5 linked regions of the Homo sapiens genome follow. The protein of the gene in region 5 purifies or fractionates together with the protein of the main gene of each other region. This does not show direct contact. Each region holds a gene or a part of one and is shown on either strand. Other genes may lie near its edges.

Region 1 (3,522 bases), on a different chromosome or scaffold from region 5:
AAACAATATAAATGATCCAGGTTCTCAAGGTGTAGAGAGAGAAGCTTGTTCTCTGGGGGCAGCTGCCTCAGCTTAAAAGACTTTCCTGACCATCCACTTCCCTATCTACCATTTTCTTTCCTCCCATATGCTCTACTTACCCATTCTTCCCCATAACAATCTCTATTTCTTACACTCAAAAATTTGTCTGTTGCAAAGGGCTTTGGCATAAAGTGTTCTACCGTGTCATTCTATTTTAATAATAATCTTACCAGCCAGGCACAGTGGCTCACACCTGTAATCCCAGCACTTTGGGAGGCCGAGGCAGGCGGATCACCTGAGGTCGGGAGTTCAAGACCAGCCTGACCAACATGGAGAAACCCCATCTCTACTAAAAATACAAAATTAGCCTGGCGTGGTGGCGCATGCCTGTAATCCCAGCTACTTGGAAGGCTGAGGCAGGAGAATCGCTTGAACCTAGGAGGCAGAGGTTGCAGTGAGCCGAGACCACGCCATTGCACTCCAGCCTGGGCAACAAAAGCGAAAACTCCATCTCAAAAATAATAATAATAATTTTACCATACTGCATACTTTACAGTCATATAAAGAACTATAATCCTCTACCCTTAATACAAATAAATGCTTAAAATGAAACACTAAACAAACAAAAAACCCACTTTAAAATCCATTTCACTAACCATGTGCTTCCACATCATATTCTTCTCCATCGTAGTCATCTGAATCCTCATCCTCAGGATCTGGATGCAAGGCCTGGCATTCGCACATTGCAGTGAACATTGCCTCCACTGAACAAGGAAATTAAACTGTAACCAATCTTTTTTTGTAATAAAAGTAACCATCAGTGCAAATAAATTTAATGGGTACACAAAACGCCACAGTATTTACAAAATCTGCCAAATTGTAAGATCAATCTTGAAAGCGGTTGAAGCAAAAGACAAGTCATAAAATAATAAGAGTTCATTATGAGAGATCATTGCAATCTCTTCATGGCTCGTGGGATTTTCCAAGAAAAAAGGGTCAGAGTCCTGGTAAGACTGCTGGCATCAGGGTGAAGGGTGAAGACTGCTCTCAGCTGATAGGGCTCTTTCCAGCCATCCTGAGATCTTCCACTTTAAAACTGCCATAACTCCTCTGCCATCCAGCAGGTGAGATTAAGTCAACAGCACCAATCAGTAAAACTAACCAGAGTCCACTCACAAAATATACCCAGATGACAGAGTGTCTACAATATTCTCACTACATTCACAACCTTTGATATTAATAGGTATTTGGTCCTTAATGATATTACCAATGCTAAAATAAAGAAAAAGCAATAGAATGGAGGTAATGGTGGTAAAGGTGAGAGGTGTGTGTGTGTGTGTATGTGTGTGTGTGTCAATTGGGAATGCTTGGTATGTAAAAGGGGAAGAATCAATACTGTAGAACACTCACACGCTGATTTATCACTAGGCACAAATCTAAATTCAGTAATAGGTTCAACATCATCATCACTGTCTTCCTCTTCTTCATCAGCAACAGGTTCTTTTGATTCTTCTAGAAAATAAAATACCCTTTTAATGTCATTATTTGACTTTAAAAAAATGAAGCATATTGAAAATCTGAATATTGCAATTCAATTTTAATTTCCAATTATGGTTGACAAATTTATTTCCAATTATGGTTGAAAAATTCTGATTATACAGTGAGCATCCTAGAAAAGCCTTGCCTCGATCTCCTGACCTCGAGATCCACGCACCTTGGCCTCCCAAAGTGCTCCCTCCGCGCCTCACCGGGAATGAATTTTTAAGGTTATTTTTAAGGTAATCTAATCTCATCAACAATGAGCTAAGGGTCAACTTTTTTTTCTGAGACTGGGACTTGTTTTGTTGCCCAGACTGGACACCCTTGCCCTCTCAGGCCCAAGCGATCCTCCCACCTCAGCCTACTAAGCAGCTGGGACTACAGGCACTTGCCACCACACCCTGCTAATTTTTGTTTTTTTGAGATGGGGTCTTACGATGTTGCCCAGGCTGGTCTGAAACTCCTGGGCTCAAGTGATCCTCCTGTCTTGGCCATTCAAAATGCTGGGATTGTGGCTGGGCACGGTGGCTCACGCCTGTAATCCCAGCACTTTGGGAGGCCGAGGTGGGCGGATCACGAGGTCAGGAGTTTGAGTCCAGCCTGGCCAATATGGTGAAACCCCGTCTCTACTAAAAATACAAAAATTAGCAAGGCGTGGTGGCAGGCGCCTATAATCCCAGCTACTCAGGAGGTTGAGGCAGGAGAATCATTTGAACCTGGGAGGTGGAGGTTGCAGTGAGCCAAGATCACAGCATCGCACTCCAGCCTAGGTGACAGGGTGAGACTCCATCACAAAAAAAAAAAATGCTGGGGTTACAGATGTGAGCCACTATGCCCGGTCCTGATGGTCATTTTTTTTTTTTTGAGACGGAGTCTTGCTCTGTCGCCCAGGCTGGACTGCAGTGGTGCCATCTCGGCTCACTGCAAGCTCTGCCTCTTGGGTTCACCCCATTCTCCTGCCTCAGCCTCCTGAGTAGCTGGGACTACAGGCGCCCGCCACCACACCTGGCTAATTTTTTTGTATTTTTTTTAGTAAAGACGGGGTTTCACCGTGTTAGCCAGAATGGTCTTGATCTCCTGACCTCGTGATCCGCCCGCCTCAGCCTCCCAAAGTGCTGGGATTACAGGTGTGAGCCACCGCGCCCAGCCCTGATGGTCATTTTTAAAGAGACTTACAGAGGTATGCCAAAGAGAAAAAAAAAAAACTTAGAGCTTAGAGAATCAGAATGCAAGGAACAAAGGCTGGGAAAATATGATTCAAGCACATGTAATTTATGAGAGGAGTTTAAGATAAAAAGAACTAAAGGGCCAAGCGAGGTGGCTAACGCCTGTAATCCCAGCCCTTTGGGAGGCTGAGGTGGGTGGATCATGAGGTCAGGAGATGGAGAGCATCCTGGCCAACACAGTGAAACCCCAACTCTACTAAAATACAAAAAAAAAAAAATTAGCGGGGCGTGGTGGCGGGAGCCTGTAGTCCCAGCTACTCGGGAGGCTGAGGCAGAAGAATCGCTTGAACCCAGGAGGCAGAGGTTGCAGTGAGTCAAGATCGCATCACTGCACTCCAGCCTGGCGACAGAGCAAGACTCCATCTCAAAAAAAAAGAAAAAAAAAAAAGGAACTGGAGAATTAGTGAAATAAATGTGACCCAGAAAGATACTAATTTCTAGTAAGATAGGAAATCCTGCATATCTTACTAAGAAAGGATTAATCATAATCACATCAATTACAACCAATCATATAGATTCTGTATGATTATAGAGCACATATTTAAAACACACACCCTAAAACCTACTGAACTGCTTTTTCCTAGTTTAGGACTCAGAGCATTTGCATTTTAAACAAGCTTCCCATGTATTTCTAATGTGTATCCATTAGTCTTGAGTTTGGGAACAAGAGACTAATATACTCCCTTAACTTTTTGGATGAAATTCAGGCTCAGAGAAATGCAAATGACTTGCCTAG
Region 2 (3,522 bases), on a different chromosome or scaffold from region 5:
GAATGAAAAGGCACTAGTTTCCATTTCTTCTCTACTGCACAGGTAAGCAAAGAGGGGAAGTCAGCTGGCTGAGTATGGGCCTCTAGGTACAGAACTGTGCTTCTGCGAAGTTGGCAGTTAGACAAGTCAGGGGCATAGGAAGAAGTAACAAACCAGATGGCTTAAGAACAAAACAGGGAAAGAGAAATGATAAATTTACACACAAGCATATATTTTATATAGACAGCTGAAGACTCCAGCTATGTACTCTATCATTCAAAATTAATTTTGAAAGAGAAAAAGAATTTCCTGCCAAAAATAACCCTAAAGTTATTTAGGGTCTTTGAAACTTAAGGCTATCTCATTTTTCCGAGGTGAACCATACTTTGTTTTCAATTACAGAAATAAATCACAAAATAAACTAGGGGACAATGAAGACACAGACCACAGACCCGGCTTCTGTCTAATGGTGGAATTCAGAACATGTGCTTGTGTATATGGGAGGGGGTGGTGGAAAGGAGTGGTAGGTGGCAGAGGCAAATGTTCTGACTCTTTTTATCACTTTCTTCACATCAAAAATCTGGGCCAAGGCTAATATCCAATCACATTCTTCGGAATGTGGGAAAATTAGGGGCCAATTTTTCCCCATTCTTGAATAGAAAGAATAAAACAAGCATAATTTCTAAACAAAGGATTCCTAACTGGAAATTTGAAGACATTATCTGCCCCTCTCTCTTTTACACCCACACTTCCTGCTTTGTGGCAGATACCCTACCTATCTTCTGGGAAAGCTCACAAAATTCCTACGGACCTTTTCTAAAAGATTGCTGGTCTGATAATCTCTCCAAGAAGGGAAAGCATCGCATGGTGGCTCTGCAAGGCCACTGAAGGACCATGACTCTAATTCATCCAATAGTCCTATAAAAGCAAGATGTAGGTCTCTAAACTCGAAACTATAAAAAGGAATAATTTTATATAGGAGTAATTTTAGGTAACATTAGCATTAAGCAAAAAGGATAAAAGCAAACTACAATTCAAAGAGAGAAGAAATGCTAATTAAAAAGAAGAGTTTGCAACACATTTAAATTGTACCTGTTCTACAGTTGCTCTGTCTGCCTTATCTTTGATGCGATACCTAACCAAAAACAAAAACGTATAGTTGACACATTCAAAATTCAGTGAGAAGCCAAAATCTTCTAAATGTAGATAATTTCATGAAAATTCCTAAGTAGGTAGTTTCTCTAAATAACAGATTTTATGATATGATTGTAGATTTTTCATTACTCAGTGAAACTTTCTTCATTTCCCCTGAATACCAAAATTCAATTCTGTATTTTGGCAAAAGGAGTATGTATACAGTAAAAAGAAAAATCTATTCCTATTTCAGAAGCATCAAAGAGCCGCCAGGGTAAAGTGAACTATGCTGAAAAAGAGAAAACATTGAGTATATTTGTACTGTCCTTCACATCTTTAATGATTCTGTTAGCACACAATTAAAGTCTTGTCTTCTTTTTTTTTTTTAAAGAGACAGCATCTTACTATGTTGCCCAGGCTAGGCATAGACTCCTGGGCTCAAGTATTCCTCCTGCCCCAGCCTCCACATAGAGTTAGTCATTTACAAGGCTTTCTGTTTAGAGGCATTTTCTAAGAAGATACAAGTTTTTTTGTTTTTGTTTTTGTTTGTTTGTTTTGAGATGGAGTCTCGCTCTGTCGCCCAGGCTGGAGTGCAGTGGCACGATCTCGGCTCACTGCAAGCTCTGCCTCCCGGGTTCACGCCATTCTCCTGCCTCAGCCTCCCGAGTAGCTGGGACTACAGGCGCCCGCCGCCAAGCCCGGCTAATTTTTTTGTATTTTTAGTAGAGACAGGATTTCACCTTGTTAGCCAAGATGGTCTCGATCTCCTGACCTTGTGATCCGCCCGCCTCTGCCTCCCAAAGTGCTGGGATTACAGGCGTGAGCCACTGCACCTGGCAGTTTTGTTTTTTAAAATCGTTTCAAGACAGTATTCAAATGCAGACTCTGATTTGCTTCTGCTTATACACTGAGTGACTCCACCTAGCACACTAACCTAAACTAATAAAGGTTTAAACACAAAGATTCAAACAGATACCAGTGAAATAACAAATAACTATGGTGTATCTCAAAAAGCTGATACCTCTTGGACATAGCAATAAATTGGAAGAAAGCTGGCTTTTACGTTCAATTCTCACAGTTAGTTGTATGATCTTAGTGTCGTTTTCTATAATATAGTGATAATACTTTAGAGTTATTAGCATATAAGAGAAGTTATTCAGATCTTAAACAATTGGCTTTGAGAACAGAAGTGTAAACAGAAACAGTTCTCAGTTATATCATTAGTTCATAGTCTTCCCTTAAATTTTTAAAAATACTTCATGGGAAAGAATAATTCTTAATAAATTTTAAGGGAACATTTTTGCACATTTTAGTTTAAACTGAAATCTACAAACACTGTTCCCCTCATAAGAACACATTTGTAAATTTCATGAGATTACACTTTTACCATGTATTTCTTAAAATTCATTAATTTTTATTTTATGTATTTATTTTTGAGATGGAGTCTCGCTCTGTGGCCCAGGCTGGAGTGCAGTGGCACGATCTTGGCTCACTGCAACCTCCACCTCCCAGGTTCAAGAGATTCTCACACCTCAGCCTCCTGAGTAGCTGGGATTACAGGCGTGCACCACCATGTCTGGCTAATTTTTGTATTTTTTGTACAGACATGGTTTCACCATGTTGGCCAGGCTGGTCTCAAACTCCTGGCCTCAAGTGATCCCCACAGCTCGGCCTTCTGAAGTGATGGGATTACAGGCATGAGCCACCACACCCAGCCAAGATTCATTAATATTTTTAATTCACAAAGGCATAGGTTATCCTAATTTAAGCTAAGGAAAACACACACACACACACACACACACACACCAAAATAATGATTGGTTTAAGTATACAAATGAACATCCTCTGTAAAAGAATTATGATCAAGGTGCTGCTTAATCTAGATTAGTCCTTATCACCCATGCATATTATTAAAATATTACTTACATATCTGCTTCCTTTTGTCTAGACTTTTCGGTGACTTTATTTATGACGGAATCAGTAACATTTAGCTTATCTAAAATACAAGAAACCCACAATGTAAACAATATGTAAGACGAAAAGACATTAACAGAGTTGCTGAACAGGGTATTTCTCCCCTCTTCCTTCTCTTCTACACTTTCTAAATGTTTTATTGTAAATAGAATACAGTTTAGTAATGAAAACAATGTAATGTTTTTAAAAGTAGGCACTAAACTGCGTTTCCTTCGTAAGTGTCACTTTCATCACTACAGCTATAATATTTGAGCCACAGAATTCTAGATGCAGAAATTCTTCAAAGATAATAATTTGCATAATAAATTTCAGACACTTGCTAGTACTCCACATGACTAATAAAACTGCCTGAATTTCAAGTTTAATTCTAAAAACTTGTTTCACTTCAAGTTATAAGTCTATGATAGGCAAAGAAGGCCCTAAAATACTTATATT
Region 3 (3,522 bases), on a different chromosome or scaffold from region 5:
GGCCAGTGTCTGATGCTCCAGCAGCGGCTTGGATGCTCCCAGGGACTGGGCGCTCCCTCCCCTTGGCAGGGAACTCCAAGGTTTTGAGGCTCACAGAGACGGTGGGAGGCAGGCGCCGGGTGGGAAGGGCGTGGCTCTGGCAACATAAAGATCTAAGCCTGAACCCCGACTGGCCATCGATTGGCTGGCTGGGGGGACTTGGGCGTGTCCCTGAACTTGCCTGGGCCTCCCTTTCCTCATCTGTAAAATGGGTATAAGGGTCCCTACTCCCAGGGCTTTGGGGAGAGGGCAGCACTCAGCACTCCTGGTCCCGAGTGCCCACTGGGTAAACGGTGGTCGTCATTGCTGTCATCTCCCCCCAACCACAATACTCCCCTACTGCCTTGGGGAGTGGCAGCTTATCACCTGGTTCCAGACCTGGCAGCTGAGCTCCCAGCCTTTGGCGCGGCTCCCGGCCTGTCTGTGCCTCCCTCCCCAGCGTCCCCCACCCCCAGGCACACCTACATTTACAACCTGTACAGAGCTGCCCTCACACACCACCACACGCGTGCGCACAGGAGTGCCCGGCTCACCCACTCCTGACACACGCCATGACCCCGTCACTCACGCTCGGAGCGTGCCCACGTGAATCGGGACTTGCCCACGTGCCCCGCAGCACCCGCCCTGCCTGCAACACCCACACCAGGCACCCGGGCCCGCTCACGCTCACCTGCACACCTCCATGGCGGCTCCCTGGCACCTCCACCAAGCAGGGGCCCCTCACCGCGGCCCAGGGCTTCAGTGTGCAGACTCCAGGCTGAGAGGGGACGGGGATCAGACCCCAATGGCACCACTCTCCAGCCGTGGGACCATGAGCCAGCTCTCATCCACTCTGAGCCTCCATTTCCTCATCTGTAAAAAGGGGACCCCCACAGGGCTCCTGGGTGGAATTGGTGAGGAACACACGTGAACACCAAGGACAGGCCTGGGTCACACGGAACATGCCTAATACCAGATTCTCACCGCAGTGACAGCCCCTGACCGTCCCGTGCTGCAGCTCGCAGATCCTCCACCACCACCAGGAGCAAAAGGAGGGCCGAGATGAGCCGCCAAGTTCAACGTCTGTTATTCCTAACCCCGCACACGGCTCTGTGTAGTAGAAGTCCCTTATCCCCAACCCCCAGATAAGAAAACTAAGGTATCGAGAGGCTAAGAACCATGCCTGAGGCTGAGAAGATCCAAGGGCCTGGGTCTTGAACACCACAGCCCAAGCACACTCCGTCCCTGGGGCCCTGACGTACCTTCCCCACTGGGTCTCACTATCTGGGAATTTGAACATGGTACAGAAAGGGAAACTGAGTCCCAGAGGGAACTAGTGACTCCAAAGCCACTGTCCAGGCCATGATGGTCCTGGGACTTAATCCCAGGCAGGCTGCTGTCCATCCTCTGAGCCCCTGGGCGCACAGGAGCCTAAAAGCCAGCCTGCCACAACCCTTCTCCCTCCCCAACTCACCAAGCCAGGAGCCAGACACAGAACAATCCGGCCACCAACCCAGCCGGGCCACCACAGAGGCCCTCCATGTTTGCCACTCGCTCCCAATTCAGCCAAGAGCCTGTGACAGCTCACTCTGTGATTGCCCAGGGGAGTGGCCAAGAACGGCTGTCCCTGATACAGCCGGTCCAGCAGCCTCCTTCCTGGGAGAGCATTTACTGAGCACCTACTACGTGCAGATCCCTGTGCAAACATCCCTGTCTCATGCGCAAGGGACCTCAGAGCTCAGAGACGTAAGGAGCTGGCCAGGATTGCCCAGCCAGGAAACAGCAGAACTGACCTTCAAGTCCTCAGCACCTGCCGTTCTGCCCTTGGTCAGAATATGACCCCAATCTCAAGTTACCTAGAAACGCCGCAACGTAATCTCTGACACTCTCTGCCCTGCAAAATAGATCACACACAGAATGTGAAAATTGATTCATCTTGTTATGACCATAATGATGATGTGCTTTTTAATTTATATTGGCTTTTTTTCTTACCAGAGTGCTAGAGATATCTGGGGCAAGATGAACCCCAGCAGAAGACCTCAGTGAAGAAGTCAAGACATCCCTAGGCCAGGCGTGGTGGCTCACGCCTGTAATCCCAGCACTTTGGGAGGCCAAGGTGGGTGCACCACTTGAGGCTAGGAGTTTGAGACCAACCTGGCCAAAATGGCAAGACCCCATCTCCACTAAAAATACAAAAATTAGCCAGGTGTGGTGGTGCACATTCTAATACGAGCTACTCAGGAGGCTGAGGCAGGAGAACAGCTTGAACCCGGGAGGTGGCGATTATAGTGAGCCGAGATCGCGCCACTGCACTCTAGCCTGGGTGACGGAAGTGAGATTCCATCTCGATAGATAGATAGATAGATAGATAGATAGATAGATAGATAGATAGATAGATAGATAAAAAGAAGGCAAGACATCCCTATCTGAACCCCAACAGCCAACTCACCTTGGCACAGTGGGAGGTGCCCTGACAGGAACAAAGCAGTTCCTGCCACATATTTGCTGTGTGACCTTGGGGAAGATGCTTCACCTTTCTGGCGCTTAATTTGCCTACTTGTAAAATGAGGGCATTGAACTACTTGGCCCCAAGAGTCTCCTCCAGCTGAAAGATACTAGGATTCTATTTCATAGTATTCAAAGAAATAAATGTTGACACAGTGAGCCACCTCTTTTCCTCCCCATAAAATTGGCAAGAAGTAAGGAAAACAGTAATACCCAGTGCTGGCAAGAATGCAGAGAAATAGGCACTCTCTCATCTACTTTTGCTGAAAATGTAAACTGGAACAGCCTTTCTGGAGAGCAATTCAACAATTTTTAATCAAAAGCCTTTCAAAACATCCCCAGCCTTTTAACTCCATAACCCCGTTCTGGGTTCTTATCTTCAAGAAAAGATAAGTGCAAAGATTTAGTGCAAAGACATTCATGCAAAGATGTGGTACAAAGATGTTCATCTCAGTATTTTCAATATGGGAGGAGGAAGCTAACTGTCCAATGACAGGAGATTAAATAAAATATGTTCTGTCCATATGATGCACCATGAAAAAAAATCATGCTCTAAAAGCATAGTTCATGATACGGGCAAACATTCAGAATGGTCAGGTTTTTTTAAGTCAGAAAATAAAAAGTAGATAATCCCAAATTTACAAGGTAATGAAAACTATGAGTCCAGGGACAGCGGCTCATGCCTGTAATCCCAGCACTTTGGGAGGCCAAGGTGAGTGAATCACCTGAGGTCAGGAGTTCGAGACCAGCCTGACCAATATGGTGAAACCCCGTCTCTACTAAAAATACAAAAATTAGCTGGGAGTGGTGGCGGATGCCTGTAATCCCCTACTCGGGAGGCTGAGACAGGAGATTTGCTTGAACCCGGGAGGTGGAGATTGCAGTAAGCCAAGATCGTGCCACCGTACTCCAGCCTGGGTGACAGAGTAAGACTCTGTTTCAAAAAAAAAAAGAGGAGGGAAGGGGAGGGAAGGGGAGGGAAGGGGAGGGGAGGGCAGG
Region 4 (2,180 bases), on a different chromosome or scaffold from region 5:
CAGGATCCTTCAAGGTGACTTTTGTCTTTGGAGTGACTTCACGCTGAGAACTTATGGTCCTGTCCTTCTGTAGGAGGTGGGATCTGGGTCAAGACCCCTTAGTTGTGCATTGCTTCAGTATTAACCCCTTCCTTCCTGTGGCTTAAGCTGGAAGTCATGACCACATTTTGAATCAGGTTCCAATATCTACACTGCTATCGTAGGAGGTCTCTGGAAAATAGTATAATTAGAGATTTCCCCTGGTTCCCATCAGAATAACTGGCTCTTTCCCCCATCACTGAAGGCCTCAGTAATCAGATGTGGGGAGGATTCACAGTAAGCATATAAGACCGCCGCTTCTCAAATGAGGTTGGAATGTTCCCTGGTTTAGTTGGGGGAGCCCAATAGCCCAGTATTAGCCTTGAGGTAATAGAGTCTGGGTGATGGAATAAGGTTTCCCCAACAGAACTGCGCTTCCCAAGAATGGGAATAAGAATGGGGGTGAGGCCAGCATGGTGCGGGGGTGTCTAGAGAGAGCAGAAACCTGAGGCTGTCCCAATGGCATGCCACAGGGGGAACGCCTGAGCCGCTTTGGACTCCGCACAGAGACCACAGGCACTGTCACCTTCCGCTTGCACTGTCTGCAGCAGTCCAGGTGAGTGACTTGGCCCTCTGCCTCAGGGCACCTTAGCCCTGAGGGGTGGAGACAGCCGTAACCATGTGGCTGGCCTCCCTGCAGGGCCTTCATGGAATCGAGCTCCCTTCAGAAAAGGATGCGGAGTGTGTTGGACCGTCTGGAAGGGTTCAGCCAGCAGAGTTCCATTCACAATGTGCTAGGTATGTCCCCTCCCCCAGCTGGCCACCCCAGGTCAGCATGGGCCTGTTTCTCTCTGCAGTGCAGAGAGAAATACCATATGGCAGCCAAATAGCATATCTCCTTTCCTTACAGAGGCCTTCCGTCGAGCCCGGCGCCGCATGCAGGAGGCCCGGGAAAGCCTCCCGCAGGACCTAGTGAGCCCCTCTGGAACCCTGGTCTCCTAGCTCACAGCAGCCCTGGCCCACAGTGCAAGAGGACAAGATGGGGGATATCTGAGGCCAGTGCTCTCCTGCCTCTTCGTCTTTCTGATTAGAGACCACGTTGGTCTGCTGAGAACCAGAAAAGCTGGGAAATTCCCGGCTGGCCCCTCTGCCTAGCCTTCTGCAGGGTCTTCTCCCTACCCTGTGGAAATAAAGCCAGAGACCCTGTGGCCCCCCCTTTATATTTGCAGCCACTGTCAATGGGCATCACAGCAAGGCAGGCTTTTTGATCTGAAGCTGTTTGGGGTGACCCCATAGTGAGTCTGGCCTTGACTCACTTTTCTGGCTTGTCTCACAGTAGCAGGGGATCTGCTGTTCTCCACCCTTTAAAAATGGAGCCTTTCATCTTCCAAGACCAAAGAAGGAAGGAAGGTGGACGGTGAGAGGGTCTTAAATCCCCAGCCTGTGAGTCTCAGCCTCTTTCCAGGGAAGCCTCATTCTACTGCTTGGGGCTTGCTGAGGTTGAGATATGAGTTATTTCTGAGTAAGTGAAGGCTGAAGGCAGTGCTGAGTCCTTTCTGCTAGCTGGGTGGTATCTTTTACTGTGTTTTTTTGTTTGTTTGTTTTTTTGTTTTTTGTTACATAAACCCCTTTTATTTTGACTGATGTTCTGTTGGCTGTTTGTCTGCTCAGGTTGCTGGTATGGCTAGGGTGTTCTTAATGTCGGGGCCCCTACCATGTCTGCCCTTCCCCTTTTCTGCCTTTCCCTACTCCACAGTGTTTCTTTGGGCTCTCCTAATTCAGCCCCCAGGAGAGGCTTAGATGGTTGTGCCAGCTTGCGTGTTAACAGCACTTCTCTTAAACATCTGGAGCAAAGCATGGAACTGAGGCCACGTCTTCCCTAGCCCAACACAGAAACAGCAGCCCCTGCCCTTAGCAGTGCTTTATTGGTAGAAGCAGAGCATGCTGCCTGGCCTCAGGCTCAGAGGAGTATTGTGGGGTGTCTGGAGGCTAGGACCGAGTGGTCTCTTAGTCATGGTGAGGGAGGGGAGGGAGGGCTGGGAAACAGTAGAAAGTGCTGTAAACCCTCCAGCTGACTTTTCTTGCCTGGGGTGCAAGACCACATGGCTTGGCTCCCAAGCCTTTGCACGTGGCGCTGATTCATAGCCTAATACCTAAGAGGC
Region 5 (3,167 bases):
AGATCATTTTTCCTGATTCTCTTGTGACAAATCAGCAAGTTACCACATTCCCACATCTCTGGTGGAAGGTGCCCACCTCCAGCCTAAGAATATGTAGCGGCTCACAGCAGACATCATCACCTTGCAAAGTGCTTTCAAGCACAGCTTATTTCCAGATAATTCAAAGACCTTCTTGGAAACAGCAGTAAGGCTGCTAATTCTAAAACTAAAGCAGTTTTATTTTGTTTTTTAAACCAAAGATCACTCCTCTTCTCTGTTCCAGCTAAAAATTACTGGACCGTCAGAAGGCTGGGTTAAGTTTTCCTTCCTTCACCTTATCTGAAAGCCCATCTTCTCCTCCTTCTACCTCAATGGCATATTTCTGTCTGACCCACACATCTGTCCTTTTGTAGTCTTCTGCCATTTTCTAATTGCTATATCTATGTAAGTCCAGCATTTCCAATACCATTATAAGCTCCCTGATGGTCAGGCTTGGGCAATGCTTTCTTGGTAACCACTCCTCCTCTTCCTTTTCTACAAGGCTGGGTAGGGGACATTCAGGGAATGTCAGGTGCTAGACAGGGGACATCTAAAGGACTCAAATGTGATTGCAACAGAAAAATTACCACCACCACCACCAAACATTTATTGCACGGCTGCCCATGGTCTTCCCCTCCGTACCTCAACTTCTGTCATCACTCTTGGTGATATCAATGTCCATGCAGATAACCTGTGCCTTAGGCCACATACCTTGTCTCTCAGTCCTTTGACTTTTCCATATTACCATAACCACTCAGACTGGTTTAACTTAAAATTCCTGATCACAATCACATATCTCACCTTGACTTCCAACACCACCTGACAAACCTCCACATCTGTCCAGTAGGATGAATTTCTCTCTCCCCCGGGTACTGCCTCATACCTTTTCCCTTCTTAAGCCTCCCCACTTGCAACACACACGAACACACCCAAGTCTCCATACCTTCATGAGATGATCCCACTTCACCTTTCACAGAAAAAAAAAAAAAAAAAAAAAACCCAGACATCGTCAGGGAACACGTTCACCTTCCACCACTCTCAACAGCCCTGCCTGTGGCTGCCCCTGGCTTCTCCCGCATTGCCTGTGTTACGGTGGAGAAAGTGGTCTTCTTCCCCCAAGCCATTCCCTTGATACTTGGTGTCAGTGCCTTCTCCCACCTTGATCTTGGCTTTCCCTTCACCACCTCCATCATTCGCTTCCTCTCCATTGGATCCCATTAGCTTACATACATGCTCGGGTATCACCGTGACTCCATATCCTGCCCCAGTCTCTGCCCTCCATCGTGCCAAGCCAGCCAAAAGAGCCAACCACATATACTGCCTCCATGTCTGCGCTTCTTATTCCCTCTGACTCCGGCTCCTACCCCAACCCATGAGGGACTGTCTGGTCATGGCCATCTACAACCCCCATGCTGCCTGACCCAGTGGACGCTTTTCTGTCTTTCTCTCCCTGACCTCTCAGCAGCTTTTGACATACTTTATGAAATAATCATGTGGCGTCTTTGACTCCATATTCTTAGTTCTCCCCTACCTAAATAGGGAGCTCCTCCTCAGCTTTCTTTGCTAAATTATCCCTTCTACCAGACTTTAAAATGTTGGTGTTGTTCAATACTCAGTCCTGGGTCTTTCCTTCTCTCTTTCTTTCCCTACAGTCTCTCCTTAGATGGTCTCATCCATTTCTAATGACTACAAGTATCTCCTAGATTTGAAGAACTCTTTAGTTCAGACTCAAATATTCAATTCGTTACTTGAGATCTCCACTTTTTGAAGACCCCACAATTCCTCTGGCATGCACTCTCCCTTGTAGCCCTAAGCACATAAACCTAACGTGGATTGGCTACTGGCATGTCCCTGGTGGCCTTTGTCTATCAGACTTCAATCATTCAAAGCACAGAGAGATTACATCTGTCCACATGTATATATCTGGTTAGGGGCAGAGCTGAAGTTCAATCCCAAAGAAATCTCACTTCAGGGCCTATGACCTTAACCCCCATACTATGTTTCCCTTTTTAAATAAAGGCAATATGTAAGCTTCTAGTTAACCACTCATGCCCTGGGCTTGAATTCCAACTCTATCACTTACTTAATTTCCCATGGCCTCGGTTTCCTCACCTATACAATGGGAATATTTAGTAACCACCTCATTGGGTTGTTAAGAGGAGTAAATGAGATCATGTAAGCAAAGCACTGAGAACAGGGCCTGGCACAAACTGCAGGCAGTATAAGTGCCCCCCAATGTCAGCTATTATTACTGCTAAATAACATCTGCTTCTTTTGATTACATAGCAATTTAGGTTTGTGGTGGTGATAGATAAACCCAATATTTTTGTTGTCTGTTTGGGAAAGTTTCTTAAGACTATAATTTCCTATGACTTCTGGCTTACTTGAGCTTTTTTTTTTTTTTTTTTTTTTGAGACCGCGTTTTGCTCTTGTTGCCCAGTCTGGAGTGCAATGGCGCGATCTCAGCTCACTGCAACCTCCACCTCCCAGGTTCAAGCGATTCTCCTGCTGCAGCCTCCCAAGTAGCTGGGATTATAGGCATGCACCACCGCGCCAGGCTAATCTTTTTGTATTTTTAGTAGAGACAGGGTTCACCATGTTCGTCAGTCTGGTTTCCAGCTCCTGACCTCAGGTGATCCACCCGCCTCAGCCTCCCAAAGTGCTGGGATTACATGTGTGAGCCACCACACCCAGCTGAGCTTTCAATAGTTTAAATTACAGGGTCCCTCACAGTAACAGAAGGAGGGCAGGGACTCTGTTGTGCTCATTACTGTATCCTGAGCATGTAGAAAGAGGCTGAGTGTTTCCTTTGGTACCTCTCCCGCTAAATGAGGAGCTTTGCAAGAACCAAGTAATGTCTGTGTCTTCTCTAGACACTGCTTTCCTGGACATTACCCTGTTGATGTCTCAAAGAGACACTGGGCTGGGGCATGCGCATGTGTGGGTATGTGATGTTGCTAAGAGATACAGTTCTTTAAATGTGTGATAAGAATCACTGGGGGAATTTTACTTACATGTTTGAAACAACAAAAGAAAAACATATTCTCTGGGAACAAGCTTAACAATCAAGAGTGATCCATTATAAACAAGATCAGAATGACAATCGCCTGCATTAAACGTGACATTTTTGGTATTTGTACATCCATTTT

Evidence for each region.
Region 1: the proteins of C1orf115 (region 5) and CLNS1A purify together in Homo sapiens (affinity purification with mass spectrometry; one large-scale study listed by BioGRID and IntAct). This does not show direct contact.
Region 2: the proteins of C1orf115 (region 5) and RIOK1 purify together in Homo sapiens (affinity purification with mass spectrometry; one large-scale study listed by BioGRID and IntAct). This does not show direct contact.
Region 3: the proteins of C1orf115 (region 5) and NCS1 purify together in Homo sapiens (affinity purification with mass spectrometry; one large-scale study listed by BioGRID and IntAct). This does not show direct contact.
Region 4: the proteins of C1orf115 (region 5) and MKS1 purify together in Homo sapiens (affinity purification with mass spectrometry; one large-scale study listed by BioGRID and IntAct). This does not show direct contact.

Annotation. Positions count from the first base shown.
Region 1 is NC_000011.10:77,624,286-77,627,807, forward strand, and holds part of CLNS1A (methylosome subunit pICln), read right to left. Parts: intron 1,534-3,522; coding exon 1,432-1,533; intron 786-1,431; coding exon 678-785; intron 1-677. UniProt on the Homo sapiens protein: Involved in both the assembly of spliceosomal snRNPs and the methylation of Sm proteins.
Region 2 is NC_000006.12:7,396,290-7,399,811, reverse strand, and holds part of RIOK1 (serine/threonine-protein kinase RIO1), read right to left. Parts: intron 3,110-3,522; coding exon 3,040-3,109; intron 1,115-3,039; coding exon 1,072-1,114; intron 1-1,071. UniProt on the Homo sapiens protein: Involved in the final steps of cytoplasmic maturation of the 40S ribosomal subunit. Involved in processing of 18S-E pre-rRNA to the mature 18S rRNA. Required for the recycling of NOB1 and PNO1 from the late 40S precursor.
Region 3 is NC_000009.12:130,178,895-130,182,416, reverse strand, and holds part of NCS1 (neuronal calcium sensor 1), read right to left. Parts: intron 1-3,522. UniProt on the Homo sapiens protein: Neuronal calcium sensor, regulator of G protein-coupled receptor phosphorylation in a calcium dependent manner. Directly regulates GRK1 (RHOK), but not GRK2 to GRK5. Can substitute for calmodulin. Stimulates PI4KB kinase activity.
Region 4 is NC_000017.11:58,204,919-58,207,098, reverse strand, and holds the end of MKS1 (tectonic-like complex member MKS1), read left to right. Parts: coding exon 1-14; intron 15-551; coding exon 552-634; intron 635-718; coding exon 719-816; intron 817-928; coding exon 929-1,020; coding exon of another isoform or gene 1,021-1,109; 3' UTR 1,110-1,658; downstream 1,659-2,180. UniProt on the Homo sapiens protein: Component of the tectonic-like complex, a complex localized at the transition zone of primary cilia and acting as a barrier that prevents diffusion of transmembrane proteins between the cilia and plasma membranes.
Region 5 is NC_000001.11:220,693,344-220,696,510, reverse strand, and holds part of C1orf115 (required for drug-induced death protein 1), read right to left. Parts: intron 1-3,167. UniProt on the Homo sapiens protein: Regulates drug efflux through modulation of ABCB1 localization and activity.